Homo sapiens: one gene and its partners. The protein of the gene in region 3 purifies or fractionates together with the protein of the main gene of each other region. This does not show direct contact. Each region holds a gene or a part of one and is shown on either strand. Other genes may lie near its edges. The genes, in order: SREBF2, ERLIN2 and INSIG1.

The links.
Region 1: the proteins of INSIG1 (region 3) and SREBF2 purify together in Homo sapiens (affinity purification with western blotting, with the first as the bait; 2 studies listed by BioGRID). This does not show direct contact.
Region 2: the proteins of INSIG1 (region 3) and ERLIN2 purify together in Homo sapiens (affinity purification with western blotting; 4 studies listed by BioGRID and IntAct, with this or other methods). This does not show direct contact.

Annotation. Positions count from the first base shown.
Region 1 is NC_000022.11:41,836,052-41,843,157, reverse strand, and holds part of SREBF2 (sterol regulatory element-binding protein 2), read right to left. Parts: intron 1-7,106.
Region 2 is NC_000008.11:37,731,720-37,739,671, forward strand, and holds the start of ERLIN2 (erlin-2), read left to right. Parts: upstream 1-4,914; 5' UTR 4,915-4,959; exon of another isoform or gene 4,960-5,709; intron 5,710-6,188; 5' UTR 6,189-6,203; coding exon 6,204-6,310; intron 6,311-7,952. UniProt on the Homo sapiens protein: Component of the ERLIN1/ERLIN2 complex which mediates the endoplasmic reticulum-associated degradation (ERAD) of inositol 1,4,5-trisphosphate receptors (IP3Rs) such as ITPR1.
Region 3 is NC_000007.14:155,300,844-155,307,949, forward strand, and holds part of INSIG1 (insulin-induced gene 1 protein), read left to right. Parts: intron 1-722; coding exon 723-847; coding exon of another isoform or gene 848-877; intron 878-1,407; coding exon 1,408-1,574; intron 1,575-1,903; coding exon 1,904-2,003; intron 2,004-2,981; coding exon of another isoform or gene 2,982-3,052; intron 3,053-7,106. UniProt on the Homo sapiens protein: Oxysterol-binding protein that mediates feedback control of cholesterol synthesis by controlling both endoplasmic reticulum to Golgi transport of SCAP and degradation of HMGCR.

The DNA of each region.
Region 1 (7,106 bases), on a different chromosome or scaffold from region 3:
TGGTCTTGTATTCATTATCAAATAAAGTCATGTGTCACTTGACAACAGGATTCATTCTGAGAAATGTGTCATTAGGCAACTGCTTCATTGTGCAAACATCACAGAGTATACTTACACACACCTAGATGGTATGGCAATAGCTCCATTATAATCTTTTTTTTTTTTTTGAGACGGACGTCTCGCTCTGGTGTCCCAGCTAGAATACAGTGGTGCGATTTCAGCTCACTGCAACCTCCACCTCCTGGATTCAAGCGATTCTCCTGCCTCAGCCTCCCACGTAGCTGGGATTACAGGCTCATGCCACCACGCCCGGCTAATTTTTTGTATTTTTTAGTCGAGACAGGGTTTCACCATGTTAGCCAGGATGGTCTTGATCTCCTGACCCCATGATTCACCCGGCTCGGCCTCCCCAAGTGCTGGGATTATAGGCATGAGCCACTGTGACCAGCCCCTCTTATGTTTTACCTAACTGGATTCTTGCGACAACTATGTCGGAGACAGCACCACCCTGGCTTTGATCCAACAATCCCACTTCTGGTAACCGCTCCTGCCTCTAGACTTGCACATGTGTGAAAGGAAGAATTTACAAAGCTATTCGCAGCATTGTTTTTAATAGCAGAAGACTGAAAATACCTTCAGATGTCCATCAAAAAAGGACTGGATGAATAAATTACAGGGCATCATCAAATGGAAAACCATGCAGCAGTGAAAAAGTCTGGGATGATCTATAAGATACATTGGTAAGCAGAAAGGAAAAGGCAAGGCACAGAAGAACAGGGCTTATAGCATGCTAACTTTTTCAGTCAAAAAGGAAAGCAAAGCAAAAACTAAAATCAATATTTGTTATTAGCTTCTTTTGTAATAACAAATACATTTTGAAGCAGGTAAAAGAAACTAAAAATTTAATTACTTGTGAGGGAGCGGTGGGACTACGCAGATAGTGGGTAGGGCCGGGAGCAAGACTTTTCATAGTACCTTTTTATGTATTTTATTTTGATTCATATGAATGTACTATCTTTTAAAAAAATAAAAATATTTCCAAGTTGTAATTCCCAATCACCATAGTAATTTGCAGCACTGGAAATGTTTTTAAAATGAAAGGGCTACAGCTGATAGTGTGTTACCCAGCTGAACTTGAAGACTCCTCTTTGGAAGATACACGCCCATGAACAAACTCCCAAGTGACTTGTTCACAAGTATTCAGAACAGTGCTTATGTTAAGAAAAAACTGCAAATGATGAAAATGTTCAACAGGTACACAGGTGTGCAAGGGTTTGCCTATTCAGATGGATCACATTAGATTATATGGCTATTACACCTCAACTACTTCAACATACAGCAATCCCTATGTGAAAACACTGTGATATGTACGCAGATAAGCAATGTTCAGACGAGAATCCAGAAGGATACGGACAATTTGATATTTGCAAAGTTCTAATTGAATAAAACTGCTTGAGAATTTCCTTTTTTTAATTACAAATTTGAGGAGTGAAATGATCTAGTTGAGAAAGAAGCAAAAATATATATTTTTTAAAATGCCAAAATATGAACTGAATATGAGAGCTACATAAAAGCCTATTCAATGAGAGGCAAGCAGCATTCAAGAACATTAGGCCAAAGGCCTGGGTGTGAATGTGGGGAATGTTTGTCAAGGGCGAGGCCAAATAGACAGAGGAGGGAGGAGAAACCCAAAGGGACTCTAGTGCCGTGATCTGAGCAACCTCCAAAAACATATCCCAGGAAATGTAACTGGATGAGACCAGGAGACAAAAATGGGTGGAAAATAAATAAGCTGTGGACAACAGCAGCTCTTTCAACCCAAACGTTAGCAACCCTCATATATACTCCAGTGTCAAAACATACCTTATGTCTTTAAAAAGGTACAAAAGGGATGAAAAGCAGATCTGTGCTTCATCTCACTGAGCAGTTTTTCCAAAGCATCCCTCCCTGGAGAAATGTGAAGTCAGTTTCCACTCTTCTCCCACCTCCACCTCCTAGGGGTGTGCTGACCACAACCATCCCCAACACTCACTCCTAGCTCAGCCAGTTGGCCACTCCAACTTTCCCAATGGTGTGAACACCCAGACTGAACTTGAGGTGCTTTCCTTCCCTCATTAGACACACCTTTACAGAGTGCCTATTCAGTGCCAGGTACTGCATGCAGGATACTCTGCCAAAGATGAAACTGGGTGTCTGCAGAGAGAAGCAAGCAGAGGCCCAAATCAGTGCCATGGAAAGGCTCAGGTACTGGAAGTTCCTCTGCAGGCTCAGGTGACAAGGAGGCTGATGGCAGGGGGACTGCATGAATTCAGGTATCAGACACAGCTCTCCAGAGCCCCAACAAGTTGGGACAGTGACTGTCGGCCCAGTCACATCAAGGCACGTTGTCATGGAATTCAGAACATAAAGACAGGATCCCAAAAGCTTCCAGAGAAGAAAACAGGTCACACAAAGGATCAAGAATGGAAATGGCATCAGATTTCTCTACTAGAAGCAAGAAGATAATCAGACAATGCCTTCAAAATTCTGACATAAAACTCTGTCCAACCTAAAATTCTAAACTCAGCCAAACTACCAAAGTGGAATGAGGTTGGTAGAAAGATGTTTTTAGACAGGCAAGGCCTCGAAGAGTTACCTAAATGTACTCTTTCTCAGGAAGCCACTGGAGGATGTGCTCCACTAAAATAAGTGAGTAAAAATCAAGAACTGGGAAAGAAGAGCTTCAACATTGCCCCCAAGGGTGATGGTTAGGGGTTGTCCCAAGATAAGTGAAGGGAGAGCAGACCTAAACCATAGCCATCAGATGGGACAGGAAAGAAAGGAACTGACCACCACATTGCAAGTTTCTGTCACAAGATTTAGGGCAAATTAGTTACAGGAACATAGAAACTAAGCATGTGGGCCGGGCGCGGTGGCTCACGTCTGTAATCCCAGCACTTTGGGAGACCGAGTCGGGTGGATCACAAGGACAGGAGTTCAAGACCAGCCTGGCCAAGATGGTGAAACCCCGTCTCTACTAAAAATACAAAAAATTAGCTGGGTGTGGAGGTGGGTGCCTATAATCCCAGCTACTTGGGAGGCTGAGGCAGAGAACTGCCTGAACCCAGGAGGCAGAGGCTGCAGTGAGCTGAGACCGCGCCACTGCACTTCAGCCTGGGCGACAGAGTGAGACTCCGTCTCAAAAAAAAAAAAAAAAAAAAAGAAACTAAGCATGTGAATAAATGGGACTATTTATTATAAGCTCTTGGAAAACATAAACAACAAAAAATGTAGAAGATCTACCCAAGAGAAATGAACATATATGTCCACACAGCAACTTGTACACAAGTTTGTAGCAGCTTCATTCATAATGTAGCCAGAGTGGAAACGGCCCAAATGTCCACCAACTGAAGAGTAGATAAAACAGAATGCGGTGTGTCCATGCAATGGAACACTACACTGCAACATGATGAACCTAAGCAATATTATGCTACCTGTCTGATTCCATTTATGAGTTGTCCAGAACAGGCAAACTCATCAAGACAGAAAGTAGATCAGCTCATTGAAAAAATTATTCTACTTTCTCCAAAGAGAACTACTTGCTTCCACCTGCCCATCTCCCACTCACCCCTGCTTCCTTTCTGCCTTGGATTCCCTCATCTGACTGTTCTGGCAAGGTTTGGCCTCCTAATACCAAGTCCCACGACTCCTTGCATGGCCTTGTCATCCTTGTTGTTCTCTGTGGCATTGTCTCCACCATCTACAGACTACTCCTTGAAAAGCTAACACTTTCCTAACCTCTAATCTCCCAGTTCTCTCCTCTTGACTCAGCAGTGACTCTCTTCAATCTCCATCCCAGTTTTACCTTCTCCTAAGTATCTACATCTCATTTCCTAATGGATGACCCCCAGGCACCCCAATTTCAGCACAATTAAGATAAATTTTCATCATTTCCCCTAACCAGCTCTTTCTGCTGACTCCTAACTCCCCCAGTGCTCCAGGCTCAAAGTCTTAATGGGATCTTAGAATTCTCCCTCTGCTCTGCCTTCAGGGACAAGCCTTCAGTGAGGACATGTCCTGTCACATCCCCAACACTCACTCCTTGCTCACCCAGTTGGCCACTCCAACCTTCCCAATGGTGTGAACACTCAGACTGAACTTGAGGTGCTTTCCTTTCCTCATCAGACACACCTTTACAGAACACCTAGTCAGTGCCAGGTACTGCAGGGTACTCTGTCAAACTGGGTTTCTGCAGGGAGAAGCAAGCAGAGGCCCAAGTCAGTGCCATGGAAAGGTATTTGAATGAGGGCCACTTCCCATCCAAATTTGTCACCCTTCATCACCTCACACCTGGATGGCTACAGTTTCCTAATTGGCCTCCCTGCCTCCAATCTTCCTTGCCTATCACCACCGTTCAATTTTCTTTTCTTTCTCTTTTATTTTTTTGAGACAAGGTCTTGCTCTGTCACCTAGGCTGGAGTACAGTGGCACAATCTGGGTTCACTGCAACCTCCGCCTCCCAGGTTCAAGCGATTCTCCTGCCTCAGCTTCCCAGGTAGCTGGGGTTACAGGTGCCCACCATCATGCCCGGCTAATTTTTGCATCTTTAGTAGAAATGGGGTTTCACCATGTTGGCCAAGCTGGTCTCGAACTCCTGACCTCGGGTGATCCACCCTCCTCGGCCTACCAAAATGCTAGGATTACAGGCATGAGCCACTGAGCCCAGCCCACAATTCAATTTTCTTAAAAACCCATGATTAATATGTCACCCCCTACTTGAAAATCTTCAACAATTCCCTATCTTCCATAAAACACCTTGCATCTACAGTACAATTTAGCTCCACCTCACCTCTCAGACCTCATCTTCTACTGTTTCCTCACACACACTATATTCCAAGAAATCTCTAGTAAACTTTCATTTCCAAAGGCAGCTTGTTCTAACTCCTCCCACATACTTGTCAGGCTGCTCCTGCCACCCATCTATTTGGACCCAGCAAAAAGGTCACCTCCATGACTGTTTCTTTCCTGATCCCAGTGGAAGAGGATCCCACCTTGCTGCCCTTCCAGAAGACCTGGTGTGTAATGGCACATGAGGCCCTTTCTCAAAATAGAGATATATAACACAAAATGAAATGGTAGACTTACTCTATTATGGGAAACCTGGGGGCCTGGGACAACAGGACGTTCTGCAGTAGTACAAGACCCCAGAGATCAACTAGCACACATGCTTTATTGGGTGCCTATAGTACTTTTTTTTTAAATGAGCCAACATATAAAAATCTGGGTATTTCTTTCTTTCTTTCTTTTTTTTTTTTTTTTTGAGACAGAGTCTTGCTCTTGTTGCCCAGGCTGGAGTGCAATGGCGCGATCTCGGCTCACTGCAACCTCTGCCTCCCGGGTTCAAGCAATTCTCCTGCCTTAGCCTCCTGAGTAGCTGGGATTACAGGCATGTGCCACGACGCCCGGCTAATTTTGTATTTTTAGTAGAGACGGGGTTTCTCCATGTTGGTCAGGCTGGTCTCAAACTCCCAACCTCAGGTGATCCACCCGCCTCGGCCTCCCAAAGTGCTGGGATTATAGGTGTGAGCCACCGTGTCCAGCATTTTTTTTTTTTTTTTTTTTAGACAGAGTCTCATTCTGTTGCCTAGGCTGGAGTGCAGTGGCATGATCTCAGCTTACTGCAACCTCTGCCTCCCAGGTTCAAGTGATTCTCCTGTCTCTGCCTCCTGGGTTGCTGGGACTATAGGCGTGTACCACCATGCCCGGCTAATTTTTGTATTTTTAGTAGAGATGGGGTTTCACCATATTGGCTAGGCTGGTCTTGAACTCCTGACCTCAGGTGATCCGCCCACCTCGGCCTCCCAAAGTGCTGGGATTACAGGCATGAGCCACTGTGCCCGGCCAAAAATCTGGGTATTTCAAATAAAAATCCAGACTTCGGCATCTCTTGAAAAACAGACACTGATACCTCTCTTCCAAGAAGCCTCCCTGGACTTCCGAATCTAAGTAGGCTAGCCCAGTCACACTCTATAATATGGCCCAATTTTATTTTGCTCACAGTGCCCTGCCTAAACTGTTCATTTATTTTACTCAACTTGTATTTCCTCCATCAAGAATGTAAGCTTCGTGAGAGAGAAGACACATGATCTGTCGCGCTCAAGTTATCCTTTGTCCATCATGAATACTTAGAAGCCATTCAATGAGTAAATGAATGTGGCCTCCCTGAGCCCATATCCTTGAAGGGTACCAATGGACTGGAACACAGCAGACATTGTGGAATGAATGGATCCTTGCCTGCCTGCACCTCCTGGAGGCTCTCTAGGTTGCATCCACCCCTTATCCCCACCATACACATACAAAGGAAGTAAATGTACTCACCCTGCCTGCCTCTCCCCTTCCTCACCTGACCGGCTCCTAGAAGCATCCAGGCTGGCTATTTCCTTGATCTAATCCAACTCCAAACCATGTCCAAGACAATTAGTATCCTGCCCAGCCCAAGATCACTGGATCACTCAGGCATTCCACAAATATTTAATGGGCACTCTCACTGTGCCAGGCACTGTTCTAGGTTCAAAGAATTTAGTGGGAATGAAACGAAGGTCTCTGCCTCAAGGAGCTAACATTCAGTAATGGGAACACAGGGGTGAGAATCAAGGGATAATTTTATCTTCAGACCACTGACCTTCAGCATGCCCAACTCTTTTTGTCCTCCAAGGCCCAGGTCAAGAGCCACCTCTTTGGTGTGGTCTTCCTGCTAAGCCAGCCTTTACCAAGCTACCCTCACTGCTGACTTTTACTTGTTGTGCTGTGCAATTTTAAGCTGTTCCATACTGGCACTAGAGTTTCTCATCTCAAGCTCCATGAAGCCATAAAATTCTATGCTATCTTTCACGATTCCTTACAGCTCAGAAACCACAGCCAGCACTTGAATACTTGTTGATCAACTGAAGACATGGAACCACTTTTCCCAAACCTGGCCCCTAGGTCTCCTGTGACACAACAGCCACACCTCTTCCTTGTGCGGTATATAACTATTTTGAGAAAAAGCCTTATGCACTGTTATAAACCAGGTCTTCTGGAAGGACAGAGAAATGGAATCTTCTTCCACTGGGATCAAACCTAATGGA
Region 2 (7,952 bases), on a different chromosome or scaffold from region 3:
AGGAGACAAATCAGGTAAGAACTAGAGGCTTACATAGGATCAACGGAGAGGCTTAGAGGGAAGGGCGTGGAGAAATTGCACAAGATTATAGGCTGTGGCTAAAGAACTGGTAGAAAGAGGAGATAATTAAAGGCTCTAGGTCCCTGAGGAAAGAGGAGGGATACGATTAAGAAACCAGGTGAAAAAAGATTGGCCTAGAGTAAACATGGGTTACCTTATCCTCTGAGACTCACATCGCCGTATACAAGGTATCTCTTATATACAGCAAAAAAGAAGTCTATCAATGACATAGAGAGATGTGTAAATACATATATGTAGATAAAATTTCATATAATCTTTTAAAAAAAATTCCTGTTACTGTAAGTTCAGAGTTGGAGGGTTAGAGATGTCAAAGGAAAGGTCATCCCAGGCAAATCAGGCCAAGCCAAAATGCAACTGCCAGGCTTGTTGGAACAAAATCTCAAGGTCACAGGCTACTCTTCTCATCACCCCTCAAATGCAGTAGGAACCTTAGCCAAGCCCCCTTTCTGAAGACTTCTTCTCCCTGGACTTCTCTACAAGTAAAATAAATGGGTTGGATTAAAATCATAGGCAATAACCTATCTGTCCATCAACAGGTGAGTGGATAAACAAATTGTTGTATAGCTACACAATGAAACACTACACAGCAATAAAAAGGAATGAACTCTTGATAGACTCAACAACATGGATGAATCTCAAAATAATTATTCTGGGTTTTCAAAAAAGCCAGACCCTCCCCCACAAAAAAGGGTACATACTATACAATTCCATGCATATAAAATTCTACAAAATGCACACTAATCTAGAGTGGCAAAAGAAGATCAGTGGTCTTTTGAGAATCGAAAAGGGGGTGTACCAAAGAGGGGTAAGAGGGAGAGATTACAAAGAGGCATGGGGAAATTTGGGGCCATGATGCATGTGTTCATTATACTGATTGTGGTAATGGCTTCACAGGTATTTGCAAGTCAAAATGTAAATTGTAGACTTTATGAACAGTTTATTACATGTCAATTATATCTCAATAAAGCTGTAAAAATGTGTAATCACAAAAGGACCTTTAGGTGCCTTCTAGCTGACTTTCAACTCAATTTTTTTCCTGATGGCTCTTTGATCTCTTTACCCAATGCCTTGAAGAAACATCATTAGCCCCAAGCAAATATGCTTTTGTTCTTGGAAGGCACCAATCCCGGTTTTTGCAACTGAAAAAAAAAGAAAAGAGGAAAAATTTCTGAGCCCCCTTAATAACTAAGGATACAGTTCACTCCTCTTCCCATAAGCTCACCAAAATCTTACTGGAATCAAATGTTCTAAAAGATTATTTCTATTCCCTGTTTTAGGGCCTAAAGTGAAAAAGATAAACTTTAAATCAAACGGAAACTTTTTCCAGCAACTTCCACTCTTGTGATACTGAACTGAACTGAAGCAGAAGATTTTAAGAGTTGCCTGAATCCTTTGGACCTGCTTATTGGCTTAAAAAGTCTAATTGTGAAATTGACTTAAAAATTCCTAATTGTGAAAGAAGGGGTCTCTTCTTTGGCATGGCACTCTCACTAACAATTTTCTTGGTAAGAGGACCCAACAAACAGCAATAGAAATAGAAAACTATGGATTGCTAGGTGAGAGTATTTTTTAACCTGCTTCAATCTACAACTGCAAAATGAACTGGCCCAATTTAATTAGAAAAATTTCAGTTTCTGACCACTGATCTACATTACTGAAAGGTTACATGTGAAATAAATGTGGGGTGTGTGTGTGTGTTTGTGTCTGAAATTGAATCATTTTCTAACTCATTCACTATAAAAAAGAAATAGACGGGATCATTTGAACTCTGCCTTTGCAATTTATCATCTTCGTGATCTTAGACAATCTCTTAATTTCTCTAAGCTTCCACTTTCTCCTCTAAAATGGAGTTGAACTCAAAGGGCTGACCTAAAGTTTACATAAAATGAGAAAATGTAAGGTACTGGGGCTGATACATAGACAGTATTCAATAAAGCTTTATGAAATCTGTATTGTAAATATCCATTGAGGTATAATTTCAGAAGCCTTTATCTCTTCTTCTGATAAGCCTTCATTTGGTTATTATTTAATACCATACAACTTAAAGTTTATCATTCTCTCGCCCTGTGTCACATTAATAATCTGCAATGATAACCCACAAACATGCAAGAATACATTAAGGGAATTTGCTATTTAAAACAGCAACAGCTAACACTTGGTGAACACTTAAAATGTACCAAATGTTGTATATGCTTTTCACAACAGTCCTATAAGTTTCATACCATTATTACTTTAATTTTATAGATGAAGAAACTGAGGCAGGGATAGATCATTTTTCCAATGTTACAGAATAAGAGGCAGGCTCCAGGATTTAAACAAGGCAGCCTGACTGTGAAGTATCTGAGCTAAATCACTACTCTATACTGTGAGGTTTTTTAAAAAATAAAATTTTAGCCGGGCGCAGTGGCTCACGCCTGTAATCCCAGCACTTTGGGAGCCCAAGGCACGTGGATCACTTGAGGTCAGGAGTTCAATACCAGCCTGACCAACGTGGTGAAACCCCATCTCTACTAAAAATACAAAAATTAGCCAGTCGTGGTGGCATGCGTCTGTAGCCCCAGCTACTCGGGAGGCTGAGGCAGGAGAATCGCTTGAAGGGAGGCAAAGGTTGCAGAGCTGAGATCGCGCCACTGCAGTCCAGCCTGGGTGACAGAGCGAGACAGGAAGGAAGGAAGGAAGGAAGGAAGGAAGGAAGGAAGGAAGGAAGGAAGGAAGGAGAAAAAGAAATTGTAAACATTTTTGTTAAACAAATCATCACAAATGTATCTGCTGGGTAACATAAAAATCACAGGTCTCTTAAGAAAGAGATTTTCAGAAGTACTAGATCATCATGTACTAGCACATCACGAAGTCCATCCCCCTGCCTTTAGGCACGTCCACAACTAAATAACTCAGGTCTGGTAAAATGACTCCTAAGAACAAAATCCCAAAACTTCTAGCCACAATTCACTCCAAAGTTTAATGTGAGGAAATTTTTGTGTTTTTATTATTTTTAATTGACACATAATAATATACATATTTGTGGGAAGGGGAGGGGAGACGGGTTGCCAGAGGTTGGTTAAAGGAAATTCTTAAATTACAAGTAATTTAAATACTTGATGCTGCAGGCTAGCCCCCATTTCATGGGTTGATGAACCCTAATATTTCCATTTTTCTTACTCAATTATTAAATAAACTATTAAATAAGCATGCCCAGCTGAGGTTATATCACTGAACAGGGAGAGAAAAAACTCAAGTTCTGATAGGATTGATCGAGAGATTGGCCAGCTGTGTCTGTTTGGGGTGGGGGATGCAGGGACAGAGTAGGGAGATGAAAGGCCTTCATTTATGGAGATGGGCACAGAGCTCCCAGACAGCACCATGTAACCCTCGTATGGGTTTCACCATGTAATGCTGAAACATCCCAACACCCAGAGCAAACGCAGGAAAGGTAAACGGGCCAATCCCAAGCAGGCATGCCTGGAAAAAACCACACTTCCCTTTTCCTGAGTCTTAAATCTGTCTAACACCACCAGCTTGCCATCTTCCCGGTGTAAAAGTTTTTCTTTTACTGAAGGCTATAATTAAGTGGACTCTTTCTCTCCTGCAAACAAAATATTAATAACCTCAGTGGCTGAATTAGAAATGCCCCAATGTGATGCTGGTGAATAGGGCAGGTGGAGGACAACGTGAGGCCCTTAGACTAGGAGACACAAACTCTGGATTCCGGGCCTGGTCCCACGTTGCCTTCAGTCTGTTTTTACTGGGCACCTAAGCCCCGGGGGTGCGGAAGGAAAGTCAGTCTCTGCTCTCCCGGGAACGTACAGTTTATCTAGAAAGACGAAGTGCACTAGCCCCTGTGCACTGTGGCAGGAGTTTAAAAAGCAGTGAACTCAAGATATTAAGGAAACACAAAGGAAACTTTCCTTGGCTTTTACCCTTGAACCTCGCTGAACTTCTTAGATTCCGTTCATTAAAATTAGAATAATAATTCCTTGTTAATATACTTTGTGGCGTTGCAGGATCCCAAGGGCCAAAGCTCCCAGAAAAATATAAAGAACAACTCAAGGTAGGGATTTTTGATTGGTGAGGTAATGATGCTAATCTGTACATTGAAAAGACTGTTTCATTTCAGCTGTGCTATAGGAAAGCAAACAGTTGCAACTCGCCAGTACCTTATCAAGGAGAGAAAAAAAAAAAGGCCGCGCATGGTGGCTCATGCCTGTAATCCCAGCAGTTTGGGAGGCCGAGGCAGGAGGATTGCTTGAAGCCAGAGTTTGAGACCAGAAATACCAAGACCCTGTCTTTACTAAAAATAAAATTGTCAAGTGTCGTGGCGTGCGCCTGTGGTCCCAGCTACTCAGCAGGGTGAGGTGGGAGGATCGCTTAAGCCCAGGAGTTCGAGGCTGTAGTGAGCTATGATCGTGCCACTGCACTCCAGCCTGGGCAAAAGAGCGAGACCTTGTCTCTAAAAAAACCAAAACGAACCAGGTTCGGCCTAATGCAGAAGGAAATCCGGAGCAATCCCCAAAGTCAACGCCTTGGAAAGGTTCGCCCTGGGTCTCAGTACTCCGGGGCATGCGCGTCCTGCCGCTCGCTCTCGGGGAGCTCCCACCAACACCGCCCTCATCCCCAGCCCCAGGACGGATACCCAAGACCGAGGTCCAGGACCGCACCGACCAAGTCGCGGGCGATCCCTGGCGGCCAGCTACGGCCATTGACCGCTGGGAGCGCGAGGGGCGGGGCGCAGAGCGAGCGCGGGGCGGGGGTGTGGTCTTCTCGCGTGAATTGATGGCGTCATCGAAGCGACGGCCCGGAAGGAAGTCGCGTGCTGAGGGGTGTGACGGTTTTCTTGCTCGTGGGCTCGGACGAGTACGGAGCGCCTGCAGGGACAGCCTGGTACGCGGCCCCCGCCCCTTCGTGCGCGCGCTGGGCCTAGCTGCCGCTCAGGGTCGGGGCTGACCCGTCACTTTCGGGAACCTCAGTCCCAGCAGCTTCTCTCCCTCAGCCGGCCCGCTCCTGGAGAGAGACAGAAACCCTTTTCTGTCGCGTCCTCTCCTTGCGAGCCGCAGGGGGACCGAGCGGAGGCTATTGGAGCCGCAGCCCCAGACCAGGGCGCTTGACCCTCTCTCGGAACGGGGCGGGGAAGGGGCGCGAGTGACCTCGGGGAGGGAAGGGCACTGGCAGGAAAGGACGCAACTGCAGATCGGTAGCCGGAGGCCGCCACGGTAAAATAAGCGCCTCGCAGATGTCCGCGCCCCGGTTACGTTAGACCTGGGAGGCAGAATCCACGCCCTGCGCTCACGGGCCCACGCACGCACAGCTGAACTTTGCAGTCAGTCACCATAGTTCCAGATCATTCAGCGTTCAGGATCCCACTCCTCCGCGTCCTGGTGCCTGAACGCGGTTGGACCTAGGAGCCTAGAGGCTCGCAGTTTGGGACATTGCCTTTCTCTCTGACCACGGGCTTGGGGATCTGTCAGGTGCAAAGTGCCAAAGTATATGGGGGGGAGTGTGGCTTCAGGCTTGTTCAGAGCCCTGTCCTGTTTAGGGCCAAAGGAATAACTGGGAAGGTGGATGCGAGGCCAACGAATCCTACCTTGAAACTCTGCTCGCCTGCTGGCTCTGCCACTCCAGCATCTGAAAGGAGTAAATAATGGTTTCCTTTGAAACTGCAGGCAATTAGGAGTGGGAGACTCTGACCAGAATTACATAGCCACAACTGCCTGTCATTTGGCATCCTCTGTAATTTGGGCCAAAGTACTGCAGCTGCCTCTCTTCCCTACTACTGGTAGGAAAGGTTCAGTGACAGCACATTCGTGTTCACAGGAAGACAAGGCTGTGTTCTGAACCCTACCCAGCTGGCACGGGTTCTCCCTTGAGCAACGGCTGTATCCGGAGCCAGTGCTTCCTCAGTGCGGTGGGGGCTCTAATTTTACAGTTAAAGAAAGGGGAACGTTGACTGAGAACGAGGAGGAAGCGAGTTGTAGATCTAGCCTTGTGTTCACACGACACCAGGCTGGATATGAGTCACTCGCAGGGAGCTCAGCTTGGTGAGGTCCTCTCGCTGTTGTGGCCTTTTCTCCTGCACGTTGGACCACACACATTTTCCCGTGTCTTTTCCCTAGGATAAAGGCTCACTGATGGCTCAGTTGGGAGCAGTTGTGGCTGTGGCTTCCAGTTTCTTTTGTGCATCTCTCTTCTCAGCTGTGCACAAGATAGAAGAGGGACATATTGGGGTATATTACAGGTAAGGCAGAGACAGGGAGAAGCCGGCAACTTCCTGTTAAATAGCTCCCTTTCCTGGTCATTGCTTTCCTAGCAGATTCTGCTGAACATCTCTATTTATATTTCCTTGAATAGGGGAGCCTTTTCAGATGGAGCTTTTTATGTCAGTAACCACGGGAAAGAGAATACACACACACACATATATATGTAAATTTAGAACTTCACTTAGTAGTCCAAGATGATGCCATGGGTGGTGATTAATAAATGTGTATATAGATTTAGAGACAAAATCTAAAGGAAACTGGTGCTCCTCATTGATCATCCCTAAAATACTGTTTTCTCCTACATTCCTCTGGCAGTCTTAGCTCTACATCCCTCTGGCAGTCTTAGCTCTACATCCCTCTGGCAGTCTTAGCTCTACACTGCTAGGTTACCTTTACAAAAGCCAGCTGAGTACCAGTTCTTGATGGCAACTTGAGAAGGTAGCCTACTCTGCTAATTTGGGATGCTCTTTTAAAATTAACATTTCAGCCAGCCTGGGTCACATAGTGAGACCCTATCTCTAAAAAAATAAAATAAAAAATAAAATTTTAATTGGCCGGCTGTGGTGTCACACACACGTAGTCCTAGCTACTCAGGAGGCTTAGATGGGAGGATCACCTGAGCCCAGGAGATTGAGACCAGCCTGAGCAACATAGTGAGAGCCCATCTCTACAAAAAGTAAAAAATTAGCCGAGCATGGCAGCACGTGCCTGTAATCCCAGTTATTTGGGGGGCTGAGGTGGGAGGATCACTTGAGCCCAGAAGTTTGAGGCTGCAGTGAGCTATGATCACACCACTGCACTCCAGCCTGGGTGACAGAGCAAGACCCTGTCTCTAAAAATAAAATAATATTAACATTTCAAGAAAAATGAAAGAGCCTGCAGGTTGACTTACGTCAATCAAAGCAAGCCTTAGGATAGTGGTTCCTACAATAAAGGAACCCATTATGTCACTGTTTATTTTATTGGTTTTTTTTTTAATTCTTTGCCTAATATAAAGCAAAGAAGCACTTATAAGTCTTGGGTTGCTTTCTTTTTAGTAACCTCCATGACCAAGTGTTTTGCTTTATGTCTTTATGAACTCTTCTTATATGTGCTGTTGTGATGCTTGTTTCTGGATTGCTAACAGCAAGTTCTAAAACTCTGATTGGAATTCCTCTCTCCTTTAATTCTTTCTCCCCATCATCTGCTTACATGTTCCCCAAAAAGGCTTTTAACTTCATCATTTACATATAACTTGATTAGAAAGGTAACTCTATTGCCAAAACATATATTTCAATTATTTATAAAGTACTTCAAATTATTCTTTTGGTTGGTCATGTCATTGGACTCCAGCATTAGTGCAGGTAGTTGATAACCATATTACTGGACTTAACTGCCCTAATGGATTGCCACAAGCCCAACAGATATGACAAAGTAAAACAGACTTCTTATCTTTTTTTTTTTTGAGACAGTCTCGCTGTGTTGCCCAGGCTGGAGTGCAGTGGTGAGATCTTGGTTCACTGCAACCTCCGCCTCCCAGGTTCAAGCAATTCTCTGCCTCAGCCTCCTAAGTAGCTGGGATTACAGGTGCCTGCCACCACGCCTGGCTAATTTTTGTATTTTTAGTAGAGACGAGGTTTC
Region 3 (7,106 bases):
TTTTCTCTTCTTGGTCTGGTGTTCTTTCCGCAGCTTGAGGCTTGACCATGCGGGAACCAGATGGAGAATAAGCGAAGCCTGTGTGGGGCTGTCTCGCCCCGTACTTGCCCATGTGCATGTGTGCACAGTAGGTGCTCAGTGCCTCGTACAGAACATGCTAGAACCCCCGAAAATCAACTCCAGGGCCACTCTAGGAGCATGTGACCCAGACTGTCAAAGTCACATCAGCAAATATGTATCTCATCACGTGCCCAGCCCCAGTACTGGGTGGTGGCAGGAGTGTCAGAGCTGTGATGTGACAGGGTGTGGACAGATGCTAACCTTTTTATTGTAAGATAGAAATCACACCGGATGAAAAGACAAGGTGAACTACATAGTCATTTAAGTTCTGTGTGCTTTAGGCAAATGTGGATATTAAATATAAGGTTACATATTGCTCATATTAATATGAATAATCCCTGCTTGATTCCTTCCTGTGTTTACTGAGACATGTTCAACTACACTAAATAATAGTGATTTTTAAAAAACTTTTCCAAACAGTACAATTTTGTGGGAGTGGTACTCAAAGAGAACAAGAATATAAAATCACTCTGAAGTTATAGCTGATAATTTTTTCTAGGAAAAGGACTGGTTTGAGTAATGTACTGTGTTACTAATGACCACGTTGAAATTCTGGAACTTGAATCTGCTGTATTCTAACATTGTCAACTTTTTTAAAACAGCTGTTGTTGGCCTACTGTACCCCTGTATCGACAGTCACCTCGGAGAACCCCACAAATTTAAGAGAGAATGGGCCAGTGTCATGCGCTGCATAGCAGTTTTTGTTGGCATTAACCACGCCAGTGCTGTATCCTTAATTTTCTGTGCTACGTCCAGAGTATCTTCTTAGGTTATATATTGAAGCGTTTTGTTTTGTTATATACTCAAATGACTCCATGTCATAATACAGACATGATGGTGGTACCTACCCATTTCAGATTACTAAAAAGAGAAAGAAGAATGGGGCTATCGATGACTTCATAGTAAAATATATTGTTTTATGGTCAAAATAAATATATATTTATTTATATTTTTATATATATTATATATATTTTTAAATATATATAATATATATAATAAATATATATTTATATAAATATATATAAGCACTTTATATATAGCTTTCAGCAAGTTTATTCTTATGGTTAAGTTTTTGACTCAGTGATGGCAGGGAGATTTCAGGTGATCTTAATGATTACTGTAACCTGTATCCAACAAATCCTTTCTTTAGCTTATTACACAGTTTTTATGGACAGTGAATTATCTGTGGTACAATAATAAAATACCCATGTTTTTAACCCTTGTGGTTTTACGTTTTTTTATCTTAATAAGAGTCAGCAAACTTTTCCTTAACTTTTATATCACCAGAAATTGGATTTTGCCAATAATGTCCAGCTGTCCTTGACTTTAGCAGCCCTATCTTTGGGCCTTTGGTGGACATTTGATCGTTCCAGAAGTGGCCTTGGGCTGGGGATCACCATAGCTTTTCTAGCTACGCTGATCACGCAGTTTCTCGTGTATAATGGTGTCTATCAGTAAGTGTGTGTTTTCAAATATTGGCTTTGGAAAGCTTACTTAACTTTCATTAAAACATCCACTAAGCTTAGATATTTTCATATTTTATTTGTTTTTTATATAGAATGATACAGATTTAGGCATGAAATTCTCAAAAATGCTGCTATCCATAACTTAATGTAACGCAAAGGAAAACCAAGTAGTAGCAGTTACAACCAAACAAATATGAACATTCGTAACATTGGATGGTTGATATGCGTTCTGCATATCCCCACTACAGAGAATCTGTGATGTAGAATTGAGCCAGGTGAAATTGACTGCTAAGGTACAGTTTCTTTTCTCGCTCCAGGTATACATCCCCAGATTTCCTCTATATTCGTTCTTGGCTCCCTTGTATATTTTTCTCAGGAGGCGTCACGGTGGGGAACATAGGACGACAGTTAGCTATGGTAAGTGAAATGATCATATTATCTTCTAAAACTTGCGTCTCTTTACCTTGATAGAATGACTTTACATGATACATTCAAATTTGCGTTCATATATTCTGGTTCAGACTTGAGTGACAACTACTGAGAAAAGCTTATATTTAAAAAAATAGGTAATGATACCCAGGTAATTCTTTGCTAAATTATAAAAATTCATAATATTTGATCTAGAAAAGGAACTAGAGCCCTCGCACTGCCCCTTTGAATTGCAGATGTGGTCAGTGTTCTGAATTCTTGAAATTTCTGTAGTAAGCAGTAGAGAAAGTGACTGGTGTGTGAGTGTCCCCTCCTCCTTCACCATCGGAAGCAGATCTGGATGACCTCATGCAGTGATACTTTGCTCCCTGAGCATCAGTCCACCAGTGTTTCTTTTCACAAAATCAGAGTGGATGCAGATGATGCTGGCCTCTTAGTCCACAGTCAAGCAAATCGAGCCTGAGGCTGCAGAGTCTGTCTCGGGCCAGGGCAGGGACTAATGTGGGTGGGCAAGGGGACAGCCTGGTTCAGGCAGGCAGCACCTTTCTGTGGGGCAGGTGGCCCTGGGCATGGAGAAGTGGTGATGAGAGCACCGCTGCACGTGGCCGGGTCACCATGTAGACGGACTGTCCTGCCTGAACATTGCATCTGTTCTCAGCTGCAGGAGAAAGCAGTGCTACCCCGCAGAGCTTCTCTCACAGCCCCCCTGAGGGAGACGGAAAGGTAGTGAACTCCAGGATGGCTTTAGCAGTTCTCATTAGTTAAAAATTGACATCTTAGCACTTCAATTTAAAAACATAGAGGTGGACTTTTAAATGTTATTTTGAGTTGACTTTGGCAGGCTGAAAGAAAGTAAATTAAAAAAAACAACAAAAACCTAGAGCTGTTGCTCTCGGAGATAAGCTCTGGGAAAACTTATCTTAGTACCTCATGCTATTTTTAAAACAGTACATTTATTTTTGCCAGCTGATACCCTTCTGTGAGGAGTTGAATTTGAAGACCACTTGGCTGTTTCACAAAACCAGAAGTAATTACAGGTAGAATTTGCAGTCTTCCACTGGTTACTGACTCTCTGCTGCCAAATTTCTCATGATGGAGAAGAAAGGACTTTGCTTGCCTTTTTTTTTTTTTTTTTTTTTTGAGACAGAGCTCTGGAGTGCAGTGGTGCCATCATAGCTCACTGTAACCTTGAGCTCCCGGACTCAAGCAATCCTCCCGCTTCAGCGTCCCGAGTAGCTGGGATTACAGGCACATGCCACCATACCCGGCTAACTTTTTTGCTTTTTGTGGAGATGTTATCTCCCTGCCTTGTCCAGGCCGGGCTCGAACTCGTGGGCTCAAGCCATCCTCCCACCTTGGCCTCCCAAAGCACTGGGATTATAGGCGTGAGCCTGGCCTTGCTTTTTTTAATATTAAAAATCTGGTCGGATGGTCCCACATGGAAATAGTATGTTGTTTTCATGCATTCGCCATCATCCCCGTTAATAGTCTTCAAAGGAGAGCTGGCAACTCCATCATTGCTTTCTTGCTTTGAGATTTTTGTTTCGGTACTCTTTGGGAGAGAATTCCTAAGAAGGTTTTTAGAATAAAATTGTCCTCAACCAGATTGACTAATTACACATTATAACTACAACTTGAATAACATTTAAAGAGTTGGTTATTTCTGTTTGATAGGTTGGTGCTGTTATATGTCAAGGCTTTTTAAATCGGTTTTAAGAAATAAGCATTATTTTGGTGGAGGTAGAAATTTCACAACATTCATAAGTTCTAAACATCTAGAAATGGTTGGAGGAAACATTTTCGTTTTGAAGATAGTTTCATTAAGTAATCCCTGCTGTGCTCCTTTGCTTACAGAAAAAAATGTTAAAGATAACTCAAAATAGGATAGTTGGTGTAATTATAATTCTCCTTACTTCAGCTTTCTCTTCATCCTTTTTATTCTTTAAGCTTGGGGGAAAATGTTTGGATGTTCTCGTATCTTAAAACTGGAGGAGAGAGGCTGGGCGCGGTGGCTCACGCCTTTAATCCCAGCACTTTGGGAGGCTGAGGCGGGCGGATCACGAGGTCAGGAGATCGAGACCATCCTGGCTAACACAGTGAAACCCCGTCTGTACTAAAAATACAAAAAAAAAAAAAAAATAGCCAGGCGTGGTGGTGGGCACCTGTAGTCCCAGCTGCTTGGGATGCTGAGGCAGGAGAATGGCGTGAACCCGGGAGGCAGAGCTTGCAATGAGCCGAGATTGTGCCACTGCATTCCAGCCTGGGTGACAGAGCAAGACTCTGTCTCAAAAAAAAAAAAAAAAACTGGAGAAGAGAGATCACCACCTTAATCCCCTTCCCTGCTGGGCTATCACATGAAACTGACCTCTGAGGTTCTAAGCCTAACCCGCCTACCACTGTTTTTATTCATAAATACTTAAATCCTTACCTCTGGATCCCAACTGTTACTCTTTTTTTCACTTCAAAATTTGCAAACTCATTTCTATCCATCAAACCCCGGAAATGGCCCAGGGGCTTCACAGTGCAGTCCCCTCCCTCCTGCTGCATCCGTTCCTCAGGCTGTGCCCCAGGTTGCATTCGTGGTGCGTGTTTTCTCCCAGGGCAGCCTTCCCCACATTCCACTCTTGTCATACTGTTGACTCACAAAATGGAAGTGGCTGAATGTTCCAGGGATAGTGTCTAAGAGCTATTGGTTTAAGGTTGAAACCTACACCAAGTAAGGCTTTGTGAAGGGAGATGACGAGAGTGAAGTTGTTGACAGTCTGAAGGTGAAGAGATTCCGAGGCTCAGTTCAGCACCGGGACCAGACCCGCCCAGATCCAGGGTAATTTGAGGTCTGTGTTTGGTGCTGATGGTTTTGCCCAGTGCACTCCACACCCTCTCCTTCTTAGCTGTCTCAGTTCTCTTCAGATGCCTTTGTTCTAACTTATGCTTCCCTCCCTTAAGAAGAAACATAGTTACTTGCAAGAATAACCATGCTCAAAAGTTACAAGTTGGCTTTGCTTCAAGTTATATGGTCTCCTAGCTTTTTCTATGTGGTATTTCCCCCCACACATGCCGTTGTCCTTTGTGTCCGAAAATACAGCAGAAACATTTGTTATCAGCCTGTTACGGTTTTTTTGTTTGCTTTTTGTTTGTTTTTATTTTTACTTTTTTTGAGACGGAGTCTTGCTTTGTCACCCAGACTAAAGTGCAGTGGCACAATCTTGGCTCACTGCATTTGAACCGTCTCCCAGGTTCAAATGATTATCCTGCCTCAGCCTCCCAAGTAGCTGGGATCACAGGCGCCCACCACCGCACCTGGCTAATTTTTCTGTTTTTAGTAGAGACGGGGTTTCGCCACGTTGGCCAGGCTGGTCTCGAACTCCTGACCTCAGGTGATCCACCTGCCTCTGCCTCCCAAAGTGCTGGGATTACAGGCATGAGCCACCGCGCCCGGCCCAGCCTGTATGTTTAAAAGAAAATGAGTCTGTAACCATCATTTATAGAACTTGTAGTTGTTGCTGTTTGTAGCTTCAAGTCCTTTCTCAAGAGTAAGCTGCAAACTGCCAACAGCAATCAAGCCTGTCCTGCTGCCACTGCCCGGCCCCACTGGGCCACCTGGAGGCAGAGTCCCGCCCACCTCAGTGTCAGCTTGGGATTTGATTTGCCGTTCCTGTTTTTGATTGACCCAATTCAGCTGCTAATGATAATAATACTATTATTGTTATTGAGGGTTTACATTTGTTGGGCTCTTACTGCTGCACAGGAGGCATTGTGCTGAGCGTTTCCATTGTTAGCCAGTTTAGTCCTCATAACACAAGTCTTTGAAGTAGAAACTATTATTAGCCCATTTTTAAAAGGGGAAATTGCAGCTTAGGAAGATTAAACAACTTGGCCAAGTGGGTGGCAGAGGTCGACGTGGCACCGTGCTTCTCATTAGCATACCACACTGCCCTTTCAACACATAGCTCGCACCTGCCTTCACCCTGGAAGCAGGTTTACAGCAGCCTGTGTTGGTGTCTGGGTTGCCATTTACAATGTGCCACCATTAGGCAACACTGCTGGAAGTCCCTGTGCCACGTGTCAGGTCCGCCCGGGCTGGCTGTCGTTCGTCTCTGGCGTCTTTGCCAGGCCTCACTGTGGCCTCTGTCGACCAGGGATTCTAAAAGTCCACTTCCCATTTATTTATCAGCACATTAGTGAACAGGGAGTCAAATGTGATGACCAGTTTTCTTTCCAGGTTGCTGCCAAGAGTTTGCTCTTTTGTTTTCTCACCGCAGTTTGTATAGAACCCTCCCAGTGTTCATATCTAAAAATTGGCAGTGCTTTCACATGATCAATTCCTAAAAGCATGTATGTTTCCTAGAAGGTCTTATTGTGTGTGTCCCCAGGGTAGTAACTGGCATACCTGGGTGACTCAACCCAGACTCATGACTTTCTTACCTGTCTGTTCAGATGAGAGGCTCTTGCTGTTTTCTGGATGAGTAATCTCCGTCATTGCTGAAGGTGAGGAGCTCAGCTCCTTCCTCTTAAAGTGAGTGGAGGGCAATTAAGTAACGTGGGAAGTCACGATTCTGAGGGAAAAAAATTCTGTATGGAGGTTTCTCTTTTGCCCTTTAGCAGAAGCTCCGTGGCCTCAGGAAGGTCATTTAATCTCTCTGGCTTTGCTTCTTCATCAGTGAAATACTGTTCTCCATTAAGAATTTACCCTGAGGTGCCTGGTCATAGTAGTAACTGTAGTGTCTACCTCTCAGAAGCTCTGTGAGGGTCAGATGAGGAAGAACATGTAGAAAGGATTTCCCAACTGTGAAGCTCTGTGTGAATTGAGGGCACACAGAGCTTCAGTATTACAAAGCATGACCTATTTCCAATGTCTGTTTCAACAAACTGCTGGTAAGGTGGGTTATAACACAGGCATCAGATACTAATAAAGGTTTGTGGCAGAAACCTCCCTTCAGATAAAGGTTCAATCCCTTAAATTGCAGTTAGAACTTTCAGGAACCTATCATACCCTAAGCATCACCATGCTTTGATAAAATTGGGTGTTTCCTTTATATAGATATTAATTTAGTTAAACTTTCACCAATATCTTACACTTATATAACAGGC